2 linked regions of the Homo sapiens genome follow. The protein of the gene in region 1 interacts with the protein of each later gene in a biochemical or structural test. Each region holds a gene or a part of one and is shown on either strand. Other genes may lie near its edges. The genes, in order: MYO1C and SEPTIN9.

What was found.
Region 2: the proteins of MYO1C (region 1) and SEPTIN9 form a complex in vitro, tested with the Homo sapiens proteins (one study listed by BioGRID).

What each region holds. Positions count from the first base shown.
Region 1 is NC_000017.11:1,468,529-1,475,790, forward strand, and holds part of MYO1C (unconventional myosin-Ic), read right to left. Parts: intron 6,505-7,262; coding exon 6,410-6,504; intron 6,331-6,409; coding exon 6,284-6,330; intron 6,163-6,283; coding exon 6,082-6,162; intron 3,701-6,081; coding exon 3,595-3,700; intron 3,497-3,594; coding exon 3,379-3,496; intron 2,809-3,378; coding exon 2,695-2,808; intron 2,620-2,694; coding exon 2,543-2,619; intron 2,162-2,542; coding exon 2,093-2,161; intron 1,992-2,092; coding exon 1,907-1,991; intron 1,807-1,906; coding exon 1,647-1,806; intron 1,087-1,646; coding exon 1,003-1,086; intron 1-1,002.
Region 2 is NC_000017.11:77,487,404-77,494,665, reverse strand, and holds part of SEPTIN9 (septin-9), read right to left. Parts: intron 7,243-7,262; coding exon 7,114-7,242; intron 6,427-7,113; coding exon 6,345-6,426; intron 5,940-6,344; coding exon 5,802-5,939; intron 3,925-5,801; coding exon 3,807-3,924; intron 2,046-3,806; coding exon 1,950-2,045; intron 1,687-1,949; coding exon 1,590-1,686; intron 1-1,589.

The sequences.
Region 1 (7,262 bases):
TGGTGGGGAGCACCATCTTGGGGGGGCAGAGCCAGCCTTAGGACCTGAGACAGCCTCCCTCACCCGCTTGCTGGTCCCTCTCTGGCTCAGCACCAGGAGGCTGAGCCCTGCCCCCCACACGCCCATCAACCCTCCACTTCCTGACCCTCTGCCGCCACCAAGCACTCCCCAGCGGGGTCATGAAGGCACTGCGGGGTTTTGAAACTGGCCTTGGTAATGCTTCCCCACCCCATCAGGCCCTGGTGGCCCTGAGACTCAGCTCCAGCTTGGGGTCTTGTAAGCAGCAGATCACTAATACTCAAGGTTACTGGGTGGGCCCTTTAGCATCATCCAATACTGAGTTGGCAAAAACACGGCACATCAACCAATGCCTGTAATCAGGGCAGATATCACCAATCGACCCGAGTGAAGACGCAGACTTTTCAACACAGGGTTCTGAGCAGTCTCTACCAATCAAGGGCAGTTGGCCCACGATATGAACCCTACTGGCCACCCCAGCTGTACTCCAGTGTCCACTTCCTACACGAGGCCCAGCAGGGCCTGGCATCCAACTGAGGTCACCGGTAGACCGGGGTAAATACGGTAGACTAGGGTAAATAGAGCAGACCGGGGTAAATAGAGCAGACCGGGGTAAACAGAGTAGACCGGGGTAAATACGGTAGGCGGGGTAAATATGGTAGGCAGGGCAAAATACGGTAGACCGGGGTCAATACTATAGACGGGGTAAATACAGTAGATTGCGGTAAATAGAGTAGACTGGGGTAAATACGGTAGGTGGGGTAAATACAGTAGACCGAGATAAATACGGTAGGCGGGGTAAATACGGTAGACTGGGGTAAATAGAGTAGACCAGGGTAAATACGGTAGATCGGGGTAAATACGGTAGAACGCGGTAAATACGGTAGACCGGGGTAAATGCCCCTCCAGGCGGACACCCTTTGAGCAATGCTTGCGACTCCCTGACTCCACTTCCTCATCCTCACCCAGCCCCGCTCTCCGTACCTGCTGCTTCCACTCAGGGCTGATACTCCGGCAGTATTTCCACACCATGTTCTTTATGCACAACTCCCGCAGAAGCTCTGAGGCCTAAGGGGAGGAGTGAGGTCAGAGGTCCTGGACACCCTGGGCCCTTCCCTCTGAAGACATCGAACATATGCTACTGCATCCTTTGGATAAGTAACACCCCCTCCATCTGGAGACGCTTCCGGTCAAGAGACCTTACTCGGCAGGGCGCGGTGGCTCACGCCTGGAATCCCAGCACTTTGGGAGGCCAAGGTGGGTGGATCACCCGAGCTCAGGAGTTCAAGACCAGCCTGGCCAACAGGGTGAAACCCCGTCTCTACTAAAAATAAAAAAATTAGCCGGGCGTAGTGGCGGGCGCCTGTAGTCCCAGCTACTCAGGAGGCTGAGGCAGGAGAATCGCTTGAACCCGGGAGGCGGAGGTTGCAGTGAACCGAGATCATGCCACTCCCTGGGCGAAAGTGTGAGACTCCATCTCAAAAAAAAAAGAGACCTTACTTTTCACTGCTCAGCTCTGGTCCGGGCCCTCCGTGAGCCCTCCCTGACCAATCCTTTGGCCCGAAGAAATCAGACCCTTCTGCTGTGTACTATGATGGTCCCTAACTTGGCAGGGGGTGCCCACAGACCTCACGCAGGGCAGGTGGGGGCGTGGGCCACGAGGTGTCCAGGACATTCTGGGGCAGCTGCCGCCTCAGGTTTAGCAAAAAAGAGGTGCGCACATGGTCCAGGAAGAAGGCGTTCTCGGGGCAGCGGGGGGCGTGGCGCAGGACGAAGCCTCGGATGAGCCTGGGGTGGGGGGCCAGACAGGGTTGGGGGTGAGGGGCCTGGCGGTGAACCACCCCCCACGCCCTGCTCTGCAGCCCCCACAAGGCACCCTGGCGCTCACCGCCGGATGGTCTGTGCCGCCCACTTCCTCTTGGCTGCCTTCCTCCGGCCCAGTGTTCCACGCCACCACGACTGGATGCAGATGGCTGTCGTGGAGACCACAGATGGCTGAACTCTATCTTCTTACCATGGTGGCCCCCCCTGGCCCCAGACCCCGCCCCTCCTGAACACCCATGGGCCCGCGAACCTGATCTCTTCACCCGGAGGAATTTCTGCCGCCAGTGAAAGCCCCTCCAGGCAGCTTGGATCTTTGTGGCTGCGGTTGGGAAAGAAAGGCAATTGGCCAGAGCGCGGGGAGCCAGCTGGGAGCCTGGTGCCGTGTGCGCTCCACGAGTGGCATGAATGGGAGAGTGGCTGAAGGAACCAACGAGCAGGAGGAGAGTGGTGAAGAAGAATGAATGTGGGGACTGCCCGGAAAAGGGGGGCGGCGGGTGGGATGGTGGGCGTGGGGCTGGAGCTGGTGGGGAGGGGCTCCAAGTCGGCCATTGGACTCTCTGGAGAAGGACTCCCTGGAGCTGGGCGTGGGGCTGGAGCTGATAGGGAGGGGTGGACTCCCTGGAGAAGGAGCCCAAGGGAGTGACTTCCCTGCTTCCCAGAAGGGACCCCGTGCAGCAGGAAGGGTAGGCCTCTCTCTCACCCAGGCTCTGCCGCCGGACCTCCAGGGCATCCTCTGTGGCAAACAGGGTCTTGGGGAAGCGGATGAAGATCTTGGTCCTGGGAGAGCAGTAGTGATCAGCCCGGGGTTGCCACTCCCATTCCCCGCAGGCACCCGGCACGGACACTACCCACCTGCCCATCTTGTACTCTTCTGGCTTGTAGCCCAGGTGTCGGACCAGCACAGCCACCCCATCCTGCGGCCGTCCTGCCCACGTGGGCCACGTCTCTGGGCACAGTGACTTGTACCTGGGGACAGGAATGCACGCGGCTCCCACCCCAGTCAGCAGCCTGCCCTGGGGACCCCAATCAGCTTTCTCTGGGCACCTGCTGGGTGCTCCCACTGACTCGTTCACAGCTAGCAGGAGGCTCACTCGGTCACTGCCCCCATTTTAAAGATGAAGAAACCGTTCTTATCTACCTAAGGCCAAGTAACTAGAAAGTGGCAGAGATGAAATTCAGTTTGACCCCCCAGGCCCCCGACTCAGAAGAACCACAAAGCTGCTCCACCCTTTCGGAGCCCCTTGGAAGCTGCCCTACAAGGCTTGCTGTCTGCCTCTGGTGCCCGGCACGTGGACGGAGGCCTCCTGTACCCCTGACCGGGTGCTCCTGGAGGGCACGGCCTGGGGGAGCCGGGTATTCTTTCCACCCAGCCTGATGTCAGGACCGCAGCACCAAGGGCCTCCACCAAGGGCAGCCCAGGGCCTCCGCATCCGCATTTCTAAAATGGGGCCGAGAACCCTTGTCTGCCCTCATGGGACCTAGGGGCTCCTACCCTCCCGCTCCCCTTCCCTGGCACCGAGCAGGACCTGCCCCCACCTTTGCAGGAAAGCTTCGTATTTGCGGCGATAGGCAAAGCCGGCTCTGCGCACGCGCAGGTTTTCCAACAGCCCCAGGTACTTCACCTGGTGGCGGATCAGCACCTCGTCAAAGCGGCCTGGGGTAGGGGGAGCGCCGTGGTCAGCGGGCTGGCGCTGACGGCCTGTCTCCTGCAGGGGAGGCCCGGCCCCGAAGTCCCCCGTGGGAGGGGCCTACCGGGCTGTTTGGCATCATTGGGTTTGATGCAGCGGACGTAGGCGGGCTCCTTAGACTGCAGGATCTCCACCAGCTGCAGGAGGCTCATCTTGAACTGGGTGGCGACCTGGCGAGCCAAGAGGCATGGGAGGTTGGCCGGAGCTGGGCTAAAGCTGCTGACCCCAGCAGCGAGTACCCCACTCCCCTGGCTGGTGACGCGCGCAGCAGCCTCTGATTCTGCCTGGTCCTTACTCCTCCCACCACAGCTTCCTCGCAGCAGAGGAGGGGGCCAGACTCCACCCCTTACCCCTCTGGCTGGGCGAGAGACCTCAGTCTACGAGCCTCACTCCAGCCTAAAACTCCTGCTCAGGTCTCCCAGCAACCTCAGTGCTACACCTCCCTTTAGTGGCCCTTCTTTTTCTTTCTAGAACTTCAGGGCTGCGTTCCTAAACAGCATGTCCCATGCTACGCATTCAGCTAGTATCTGGGTATGCTGCTCTGCGGGACCTGGAAGGATCTCAGGCCTGGCGGAGGAGCACGCTCCTTGGCAAAGACTCACAATCCCGGTGTTCCGAGAGTAGCAGGTGTATGCCTGTGGGTTCTGAGAGCCCCACAAAGGGACAATTCATCCAGTCTGAGGGTTAGGGGGCACCAGGTGACGTCTTCTGGAAATGACGCTCTGCTGAGCTTTAAAGGATAAGGAGGAGGGGCGGGTGAAGTGGCTACAGGGAAGGACTGAGGGGGAGCTGCTAAGTACTCCGGCAAGATCCAGTGGCTGGACAAGGGAGACAAGGAGAGAAAAGAACGAGGGGGCCGGAGCCGGGCGCGGTGGCTCACGCCTGTCATCCCAGCACTTTGGGAGGCCGAGGCGGGCGGATCACCTGAGGTCAGGAGTTTAAGACTAGCCTGGCCAACATGGTGAAACCCCATCTCTACAAAAATAAAAAAATTAGCCGGGCACGATGGCGGGTACCTGTAATCCCAGCTACTCGTGAGTGTGAAGTGGGAGAATGGCGTGAGCCCAGGAGGCAGAGGTTGCAGTGAGCCGAGATCGCGCCACTGCACTCCAGCCTGGGTGACAGAGCGAGACTCCGTCTCAAAAACAAAAACAAAAACAAAAAAGGGGATGACACCCAGGTTTCTGGCCTGGGGGACTGGGTCAAAGAAGGAGAAAGCCTGGAGGGGCAGACCAAGGGCCCGTTTGTTATAGACCAGTGGGATCTAGGGTGCCCTGGGGCCACCTAGGGGAAGAGGATGAGATACACGAGTCTGTGGCTTGCTGGAGAGGCCTGGGCGGGAGGGTGTGTAGGCATCCTCAGCAGGGAGACGCTAGGGCCGGGAGGATGTGGTGCTTCGGGAGAGGGTGGGGTGGACGGCAGCAGCGGGCAGGGGCACAGTGAGCCACACCCTGGGCAGCATGTCGCCTGCATGCCCTCCCTGCCAGGCAGTCTGGCTTCCACCTCCCTATGGACTCACTGACCTCACTCTTCTGGGGCTCCCCTGACCCTCTTTTTGCCAAGCCCAACAGCCGTACCTCCGCCTTCAGCTCGCTGGAGCCCTCCCTGCATCTGGCACCCTGGCCATGCCTGCCTTTCCCCCGGTCCTTCTCCTTGATGCCATCGCTTTCCTGCTCACCTCATGGCCTTTTTAGACTCTCTGTGTCTGGACTGGGCCCTCACTATAGGTTCATCTGACATTCCCAAGTCATCTCCAATGCTTCCTCCTCCAGGGAGCCTCCCCAACCCCTCACCCCTTCCGCCCCGTCAGGCCGTTTGCTGTTCCCTCTTCTAAGTTTGCAAAGCACCCTGTGCACATGTTGCTGCAGGCACACCCACTCATTGTGGTACCTCAGTGCCTGGCAGTGTCTGCTATAAATGTCTGCTGAGTGGGTAGACACATGACAGCAACCGCACAGAGGCAGCTGTCAACATATGGGCACCCACAGAGACAGACGTACACAAGGATTCCCCTACAGACACAGCCCACACTGAAGACACACGACTCCACTATAGACACAGCACACACACACAAGTAGGCAAACAGGGACAGGCGTGGTGGCTCACACCGGTAATCCTAACACTTTGGGAGGCCGAGGCAGGTGGATCACCCGAGGTCAGGAGTTTGAGACCAGCCAGGCCAACATGGTGAAACCCCATCTCTACTTAAAATACAAAAAATTAGCCGGGCATGGTGGCAGGCGCCTGTAATCCCAGCTACTCAGGAGACTGAGGCAGGAGAATCGCTTGAACCAGGGAGGTGGAGGTTGCAGTGAGCCCAGATTGCGCCACTGCACTCCAGCCTGGGCAACAGAGCGAGACCCTGTCTCAAAAAAAAAAAAAAAAAAAAAAAGTAGGCAAAGAGGCACCTAAGGCAGCCCCCTACAGACACCTGCAGATGTGCACGGGCTCACACGCGTTCACACGCACGCTGCCAGCTCCCAGGCTCACACAGGCCCTCATGCACACTCAGGCGCATGCACCCCTGCGCCCGGTCCCGCCACCTCCTCACCGTCTCTGGCCGCTTCTTGTCACTGAGCTCGCTCCGGTCAAAGCACTGGCTCATAATGGGATTCTTTGAGCTACACATGGTCTGTGTGGGCAGAGCCGGGGTCAGGGTGGGGCACAGGGACAGGCAGGACAGGCTCCTGGACACAGGTGCAGAGCTGTGGGCTATCCCCACCCCCACCCCGGCCTCCCCACGTCCTCCTCACCTCCTTAAGGTTCCGGAAGAGAAGGTCATTGTTTTTGTCCAGAAACCCTGGGAGGGGAGAACCGACGTGAGGTGAGACAGAGCCTCCCCGCAGGCCCCTGTGGGGACACAGCCCCAGGATCCTCACCGGTCACGCTGTAGGTCACCTCCCCCGCATAGTGCAGAAGGCGGAATTCCCCTCGGCCCAGAGATTTCCTGGTCCGCTGGTCAGCCAGCTTGTGCCTGGGGGTGACAGGGAGGAAGCTGCAGATGGCTGCCGGCCTGAGCCAAGCCCTCTGCCTGCTGAAAGGGCCTCAGGAGCAGGAACCAGCTGCCCAGGTGCACCCCAGGCCGGGCACAGTGGCTCACGGCTGTAATCCCAGCAGTTGGGGAGGCCGAGGTGGGTAGATCACAAAGTCAGTACTTCGAGACCAGCTTGGTCAATATGGTGAAACCCCATCTCTACCAAAAATACAAAAATTAGCCAGGCGTGGTGGTGGGCGCCTGTAGTCCCAGCTACTCAGGAGGCTGACAAAGGAGAATCGCTTGAACCTGGGAGGCAGAGGTTGCAGTGAGCCGAGATGGTGCCACTACACTCCAAAAAAAAAAGAGCAGGTGCACCCCCAGGGCTGGGTCACTGAGGCAGGCCAGGCAGGGCCAGTGGCCTCCCTGATCAGAGCGGACCATGGAGGCTCAGAGAGGTAGATGGCCTTGGCCAGGGCCACACAGTGCCAGGACCGGGACCTGGGCCTCCTGACGGCCAGGGTACGCTGCAGGGAGGGAAACTCTCGTTGCTTCGGCCGCTGCGGGCTCTGCTCAGAAGGGGTGGTGAGCTGCGCACTACTTTTCAGAATGGAATCTGCTGCCCCAAGAGAGCACTTAAGTCTTAGGCGTGTTTATACCCTTTCACCCATTTGCTTTTAAGAACTATTTCAAGCAGCTAACCAGAGACACGGACAAAGATTGAAGGCACGGAGATGTTTGTGGCAGCCTTGTGATTC
Region 2 (7,262 bases), about 76 Mb from region 1:
GACATGAAACGAGATAACCCATGTCTAGCCAGTGGCACAGGAGTGTCTGATGCCTCCTGGTAATTGTCATTATGACCATTTTTTTAGAGCAACAGCTTCCCAAAAAGCTCTGTGGTCTTTGGGACAGTCTCTCAACTCACTAAAATCTTGGCACACTGCACCCACTTTGTGGATGATGAAAACTGAGGCCCTGGAAGATTAAGAGACTTGTGCTTCCTGCTCTACTGGGCCTTTCAGCCAAGTGCTCTCCCAGAACAAAGTGGCTTTTCCTGCTGCATTTCCCTCTGCACCTTCCCCTCTTCCATTCTAATGAGAAATGAAGGGACAGAGAGAGGAAGGGGAAGGAAACGTTCGGGCCCATCCCTCCCGGGGTGTCACCGCCAGGAGTGGGTTGAACTGTGGCCCCCCAGGGGCTCCCATCCATTCAAAGACATGGTCAAGGTCCAGGCCTTGGAACCCATGATTGTGACCTTACTTGGAAAACGTCTTTCTTTATAGATTCATTAAGGATCTCCAAATGGGATCATCCACTTAGGGTAGGCCCTAAGTCCAAAGACAGGCATCCTTGTCCAAAGACAAGAAGGAAAGAGGGCAGGCTCGGTGGCTCATTCCTGTAATCCCAGCACTTTGGGAGGCCAAGCAAGGTGGGCAGATCACCTGAGGTCAGGAGTTTAAGACCAGCCTGGCCAACATGGCGAAATCCTGTCTCTACTAAAAATACAAAAATTAAGTCAGGTGGGTGGTACGTGACTGTAATCCCAGATACTCGGGAGGCTGAGGCAGGAGAATTACTTGAACCCAGGAGGCAGAGGTTGCAGTGAGCTGAGATTGCAACACTGCACTCCAGCCTGGGTGACAGAACGAGACTCCGTCTCAAACAAAAAAAAAAAAAAAAAAAAAGGAAGAGGAGGGACGGGACAGAGACACAGGGAAGAAGGCCCTGTGACAATGGGGCAGAGATTAGAGCATGTGATGCCTTTACAATACAACTAGGAATGCCAGGCGCCACCAGAAGGAGGAAGGCATGGATGAGGCTGGTCCTCAGGGCCTCAGAAGGAAACAGCCCCTGATTTCGGACCTCTGGCCTCTGGAACTGTGAAAATACGTTTGTGTTGTTTTAAGTCCCCTCGTTTGTGCTAATTGGTTACAACAGCCACTCAAGAGACTAAGGTGTGAGGGTCCCAGGAACTTCAGCAGGGTAAGGGGCCGAGGGTCCATCTGGCTCACAGAGCTACAGCCCACCCCTTTTCTAGGCCCAGAGAGGTTGGGCGATTTGTCCAGGGCCACACAGGTGCCTATGAAAGAGCCTGCACCAGGATCCAGAACTTGGCGGCCCCCATCCCAGCTCCTGTCTCCCTGAATCTTTCCCTGCCCGGGGGGAGGTCTGGGGTGGAGGCATCTGCACAGGCCACTTGCCCTCTCACTTTCCCAAGGGTTGAATGGGGACAAGGAGACCCCTCCCTCTGGGTGGGGCAAGGCAGTGGATGAGGTTCCACGAGTCCCTGGCTCAGGCGTGGCCCACAGGCTCTGGGTCAGCAGAAGAGACTGTCTTCCCATCTGTCTGGAGCCCCGGCGCCTGCGGCGAGTACCTTCGATGGTACCCCACTTGGTCTTCCTCCCAAGGATCCTCTTGCCGTTGACCTGGTACTCGTGGTCACTGCCCACCACAGCAAATGGGATCATCTCCTGGGGAACGGGCAGACGGTATTGGTTACACATGTGCGGGAAGGCAATTCCCTCCCCTGGGCCCCCGGGAGGAGCTGCCCTGAGCCTGGGGTCCCCCAAAAACGAGAGCCTCAGCCTGACAGCACTGGGTACAGACACCTGGGCTCAGTGCCCTCTGGCCCCAAGAATATAATTTCATGGCTTAAGGTCCTCCAAACCCCCAACCCACCCTTCAGCAGGAACTGGGGGTCCCCTGGGAACAACATCCTAGTGGATCCACTCACCCGGAACTTCTCGTTCACCAGCCGGTCCTCCGAGTCCTCATCAAATTCCTTCTGGGGGTACACGTCGATGCCGTTGGACAGCAGGTCTGCGGTGATCTGGGATAAGGAGGGAGAGAGATGGGCCCATCCCTGTGGCAAGCTCTACCCACCCACTGGTGTTTGCCACATGACCTCCACACTGTGTGCTGCCCCAGGCTCGGGTTCAAGGGCAGGCTCTGGGGGGCTGTGACACCAATCACCTCCAACTCCTGTGCCTCCTGGAGGGAAGAGGGGCAGCTGCAGGTGCACCTGCTGTCCTGAGCGACGCTGCAACTCCCCAGGGGCTTAAGGTCATCGTCCTGAGCACCTCCCACCTCTCTTCTCCTGCTCATCACAGCCCCAAGAAAGTACTCAGGGTTACCGAGACCTCCCCTCCTGAAACCCTTCCTAAAAAACCCTCGTCACAGTCCCCAGTTCCAGCAGGGGCCCCGCCTGCAGTAACCTCTCAGCTCCCTGCCAGCAGCCCGACATGGGTACGTGCAACAGAAACATCCCAGTGAGCGGCTGCTCGCCTGCCCAGGCACAGACCACAGCCCGTGTGTAGCCTCCGGCAGACACACCCACTTTGTGTGGACTGTCTTCCCCTGCACATGCTGGGAAGGTCCCTGACACCTGGCCCCAGGACGGAGTAGGTTACAGGCCCCACCCACACCCACCGAGGCAGATGTGGTGCCGCAGCCCAGGCACCTCGGTTTCATTTTGAAAGGCACCCCATGTGGCTCTGATGTGCTGCCCTGTCAGGAGGAAGAGCCCAGGGCTGCCCTCTTGCTTGGATGCCCCTCCCTATCCCACAGCAGGGGCCTCAGACGGTGGCGGAGAAGAAGGTGGCAGAGACCATCCCTCCTGAAACTTTTTTTTTTTTTTTTTTTTTTGAGATGGAGTCTCGCTCTGTCACCCAGGCTGGAGTGCAGTGGCTCAATCTCGGCTCACTGAAGCCTCCGCCTCCCGGGTTCAAGAGATTCTCCTGCCTCAGCCTCCCAAGTAGCTGGGACTACAGGCGCCCGCCACCATGCCCGACTAATATTTTTGTATTTTTAGTAGAGATGGGGTTTCATCATGTTGGCCTCAAACTCCTGACCTCAAGTGATCTGCCCGCCTCGGCCTCCCAAAGTGCTGGGATTACAGGCGTGAGCCACCACACCTGGCCCAGCTTCTCTTCCATCTAATAAAAACCAGGCAGGGCGAGGTGAGGTGGCTCATGCCTGTAACCCCAGCACTTTGGGAGGCTGAGGCAGGAGGATCCCTTGAGCCCAAGGGTTAGAGACCAGCCTGGGCAACATGGCAAAACCTCGTCTCTACTAAAAATACAAAAATTAGCCAGACATGGTGGTGTGCGTCTGTAATTCCAGCTACTCGGGGACTGAGCCTGGGAGGTGGAGGCTGCAGTGAGCCATGATTGTGCCACTACATTGCAACCTTGGCAACTGAGCCAGACCCTTTCTCAAAAAAAAAAAGGGGGGGCATAAAACAAGGTGGGCCATGTCGCACGGCCCCTGCTCGGCCTCACTCCCTGGAAGAGAGATTCACCATCTGCCTGGTCCAGGTCTTCTCCAAAACCCCCCTCAGAGACTCTGCTGGAGAATTGGCACTCCCACAAAGCTGCTTTTGAGATATGGGGGAGCTGGAGAGGCCATCTCAGGGACGGCCCCCAGCAGCCACCTGGGCCAGGGACCACCAGGCCAGCCACCCGCTGGGGAGAGTGACCAGCGGTTCGGTCTCCCTGACAGTGTGACTCCTTTAGACGGGGTGGCCCCTGCCAGGCCTGCAGCGTCTCCAGGTTGCACAGAAGGGCTGGGGCAAGTAGAGATGGAACCCTACCCGCTGTTTGAAGTGGACCCTCTCCTCCAGGGTGAGTGTGTCCGCCTTGGCGATGACAGGGACGATGTTGACCACCTTGCTCAGGCGTTTCATAAACTCGATGTCCAGGGGCCTGAGGCTGAAGCAGAGGGATGTGCGTGAGGCTCATCTGGGGGAGCGGGGCAGTGGGGGGGCACCCACCCCCAAGCAGGTGTCGACACTCTCAGGTGCTGGCTCGGGGCTCACGGGGGTCCCTGCTGGCAAGGACAGGGCCCCGGGCCGAGTCGGCCACGCTGTGAGTGTGGGGCAGAGGAAGGACACGGGTGTGTCCCAGACACAGGTGACACCACTGCACAGGCCAGGCGGGCCAGGGCCAGCTCCAAGCACCCTCGTCCATGAGTTCTGGGGTCCCAACCACACCCCTACATGTCCACACAGAAGGGCTGTCGTTGGCTCAGCAGCCGTCTTGCTGTGGGGCTTTGGCTGGGAGGGGAGAGGCAAGAGAAATAGAAGCTAGCACCAGTGTGCGGTGCCCCTGCACCAGGCGGGCTGCTCCCCTGCACCAGGCGGGCTGCTCCCCTTGCCTGCTTGGCCCCAGTGAGCCTGGGGTCTGATGTGGGGAAAGCTGTGGGTGGCAGGGGCTGGCAGGGCCCTGGAACTGGGGCACCATCTTCCCCAGTTCTGGAGCCGAGCTTTTCCCACAGTGAGAATAAATCGGTCACACACATGGCTGGGGAGAAGCCCGCTCCGGGCAGAAGTTTAAGCAGAGATGGCCAAGGCCCGCCCCTGCCCCATGGGACTGGACGCCTTGGGCGGGACCAGGCAACATGCCTAGCTGGAGTCCCAGCCAAAGGGTCAGTGCTGGGGAGTGGCAGAAGTGCCACAGACCGCCCGCCCGCCCTCGGCTTGCCCAGCTGGCATCAGGAGAGGCTTCTGCCTCCTGCCATCAGCCTCAGCTGAGGCAAAGCTTGGAGCAGCTGGAACAGCTGCCACAGGACCGCAGGTGAGCCGTTCTGCCTGGGAGGGCAGATGTTCAGTTCAGGAGAGGCCCATGGACAGCGGGCTGGCCCCCTGCCCCTGACTCCTGCTGGCCCACAGAGGATGATGCCAGAGGGTGGGCTCGAAAACTCCGGCTTGGGTTTTCCCACAGACTCTGGGTGAGGCCCGCTGCCCACCAGCCAGGCTCCTTCCTGCACCTGGTGCCCACAGAGTATGGTTTCCCCAAACCCCTGGGCTTCCTCCGCCCAGGGAAGTACATCTGGGACAGCAGGTGCGAAGGACCTTCTCCACCCACCCATGCAGACAAGCCACCCACGGCTGCCTCCACCAGCCACTCCTGCTGGCCTCTGGTCCTCCTCCTCCCAGCCCTGGCTCAGGGTGAGCCACAGGTGTCTGGCAGGGGGTGCACAGGGAGCTGAGGACAGAGGGTCCGTGAGGCCATGAAGAGTCCACCTGCCAGGGTACATGCAGCCTCCCGCCCTTGCTGATCTCTAGGGGCGACGTCAGGTGCGGACAGAGCCGGCGGGAGGAAAGGGCTCTCACCAACACCAACAGCAGCCCCGTCCAGCCCTGGAAGGGGCCAGCACTGATCTCTGTGCTTCCCGTCTAAGAACGCACCAAACCCTCTAAGGGGTCCCATGAGGCAGGGCCCGGATGAGAAGGTCAGTCACCGCTACGGGTGCTTGGCTGGGGGCTCCCACTCCACCTGCCAGAGCCTGGCCTGAGAAGGCAGGACACAGACCACCAGGCTCCAGAACAGCCCAGGGCCTGCCTGACCCTCAGCTCCCCAAGACGCAGCTGAAGGATGGGGGCTGGGCAGGACACTTGCATAGGGGTCAGTGTGAGGCTTTGGAGGTGCAGACATGGCACACCCCCAACTTCATAGCTGGCGGCCATGGCCCCTGACTCAGCCCCTCTGCACCCAGCAGCAGGGCAGACAGCACCGTCTTGCAGTCCCAGGGGACAGAGGGAACCCAGGGCACCCGGCATGAGGACGCCGACACTGCAGGGACGTACGAGTGGCCGGTGGCGGGGATGAAGTAGAGGCAGCAGTGGACGCGGGTGTCCGGGATGCGCTTCTTGCGGTTGATGTTGACCTCCTCCTGCAGGTATTTCTCGTACTGGTCATTGATGAACTTCATGATGGGCTGCCAGCTGCGTGGGGGATGGGGACGAGTCAGCAGGCACATGAGATGCCCTCCCCAAGCAGGTCGTGCATTCCCAGGACTCAGAGCCCAACACCCCACCTTCCAATGAAATGCATGCCCTGGGAGGTCTGGCTTGCTGAGCGGAGATGCCACAGCCTTACCCTCGGCCTCCCAAACCAGCCTCCCCGGGCTGGCCTCAGGTGATGAGTTGGGGACAGCAAGATTCCCCAGGTAATTCTGCTTTGGTCCAGAATTTTCAGGCCCCTGAGACGTGCGGCTTTGGCAGCATGTCAGGTCCCAGGAGGTGGGCCCTGCACCCCCGCGGGCCGGGAAACCTCTAGGGCTGACTCTGGGTGGGGTCCAGGGAGCCCTGAAGCCCCCGCTAGTGCTCCTCCCCCTGGAGGGGCCTCACCAGTTCTCGTTGTTGATGTGGTCCCCGAACCCTGGTGTGTCAATCACTGTCAGCTTCATCCGGACGCCTTTCTCCTCAATATCTGCACAGAGCCACGGACGCAGAGTCAGAGGGGAGACGGAAGACCCTCACAGACACCCCACACCTGACTGACCCCGGGGCAACCCCAGGTAGGCAGCGATGACAACCAAGGAGACACCGGGAAATTAATGGCCTTCCTCAGCCAACTCCGGCACAGGCCGGTGACGGTTCCCCTGGGAGCCCCTTGCCTGTCAGACTTTTGGTGGAAAACTCAGTTGTCTGTGGGGAGCTCAGTGTGACGGGGCCCACAGGGGTCCGGGACACTGACCCATCACAGCCAGAGCCCCAACATGCTCAACATGCTGGGGATGGTGGGCACAGCGAGTCCCCGTCTTGGGGACCTGGGATTGCCTGACTCGGGCACCCTCACACCGCACCAGTGCTCCAGGAAGGCATGGGTATCCCACATCCCCAGCCCATCCCCAGCCACTGACCGTGTGTGATGGTCTTGACCCCCAACCCCTGTGCTCCAGGAAGGCAGGGGCGTCCTGCATCCCCAGCCCACTCCCGGCCACTGACTGTGTGTGATGGTCTTGACCCCCCACTCTGTGCTCCAGGAAGGCAGAGGAGTCCTGCACCCCCAGCCCGCCCCTGGCCACTGACTGTGTGTGATGGTCTTGACCCCCAACCCCTGTGCTCCAGGAAGGCAGGGGCGTCCTGCACCCCCAGCCCACTCCCGGCCACTGACCGTGCGTGATGGACTTGATCTCGATGGTCTTGGGGATGCGCTCCTCTGAGGTGGGCTGCACCGACTTCCGGCTGATTTTGGATTTGAAGAGGGTGTTGATTAAGGTGGATTTACCCAAGCCGCTCTGCCCTGGGGAGAGGATGGGAGGC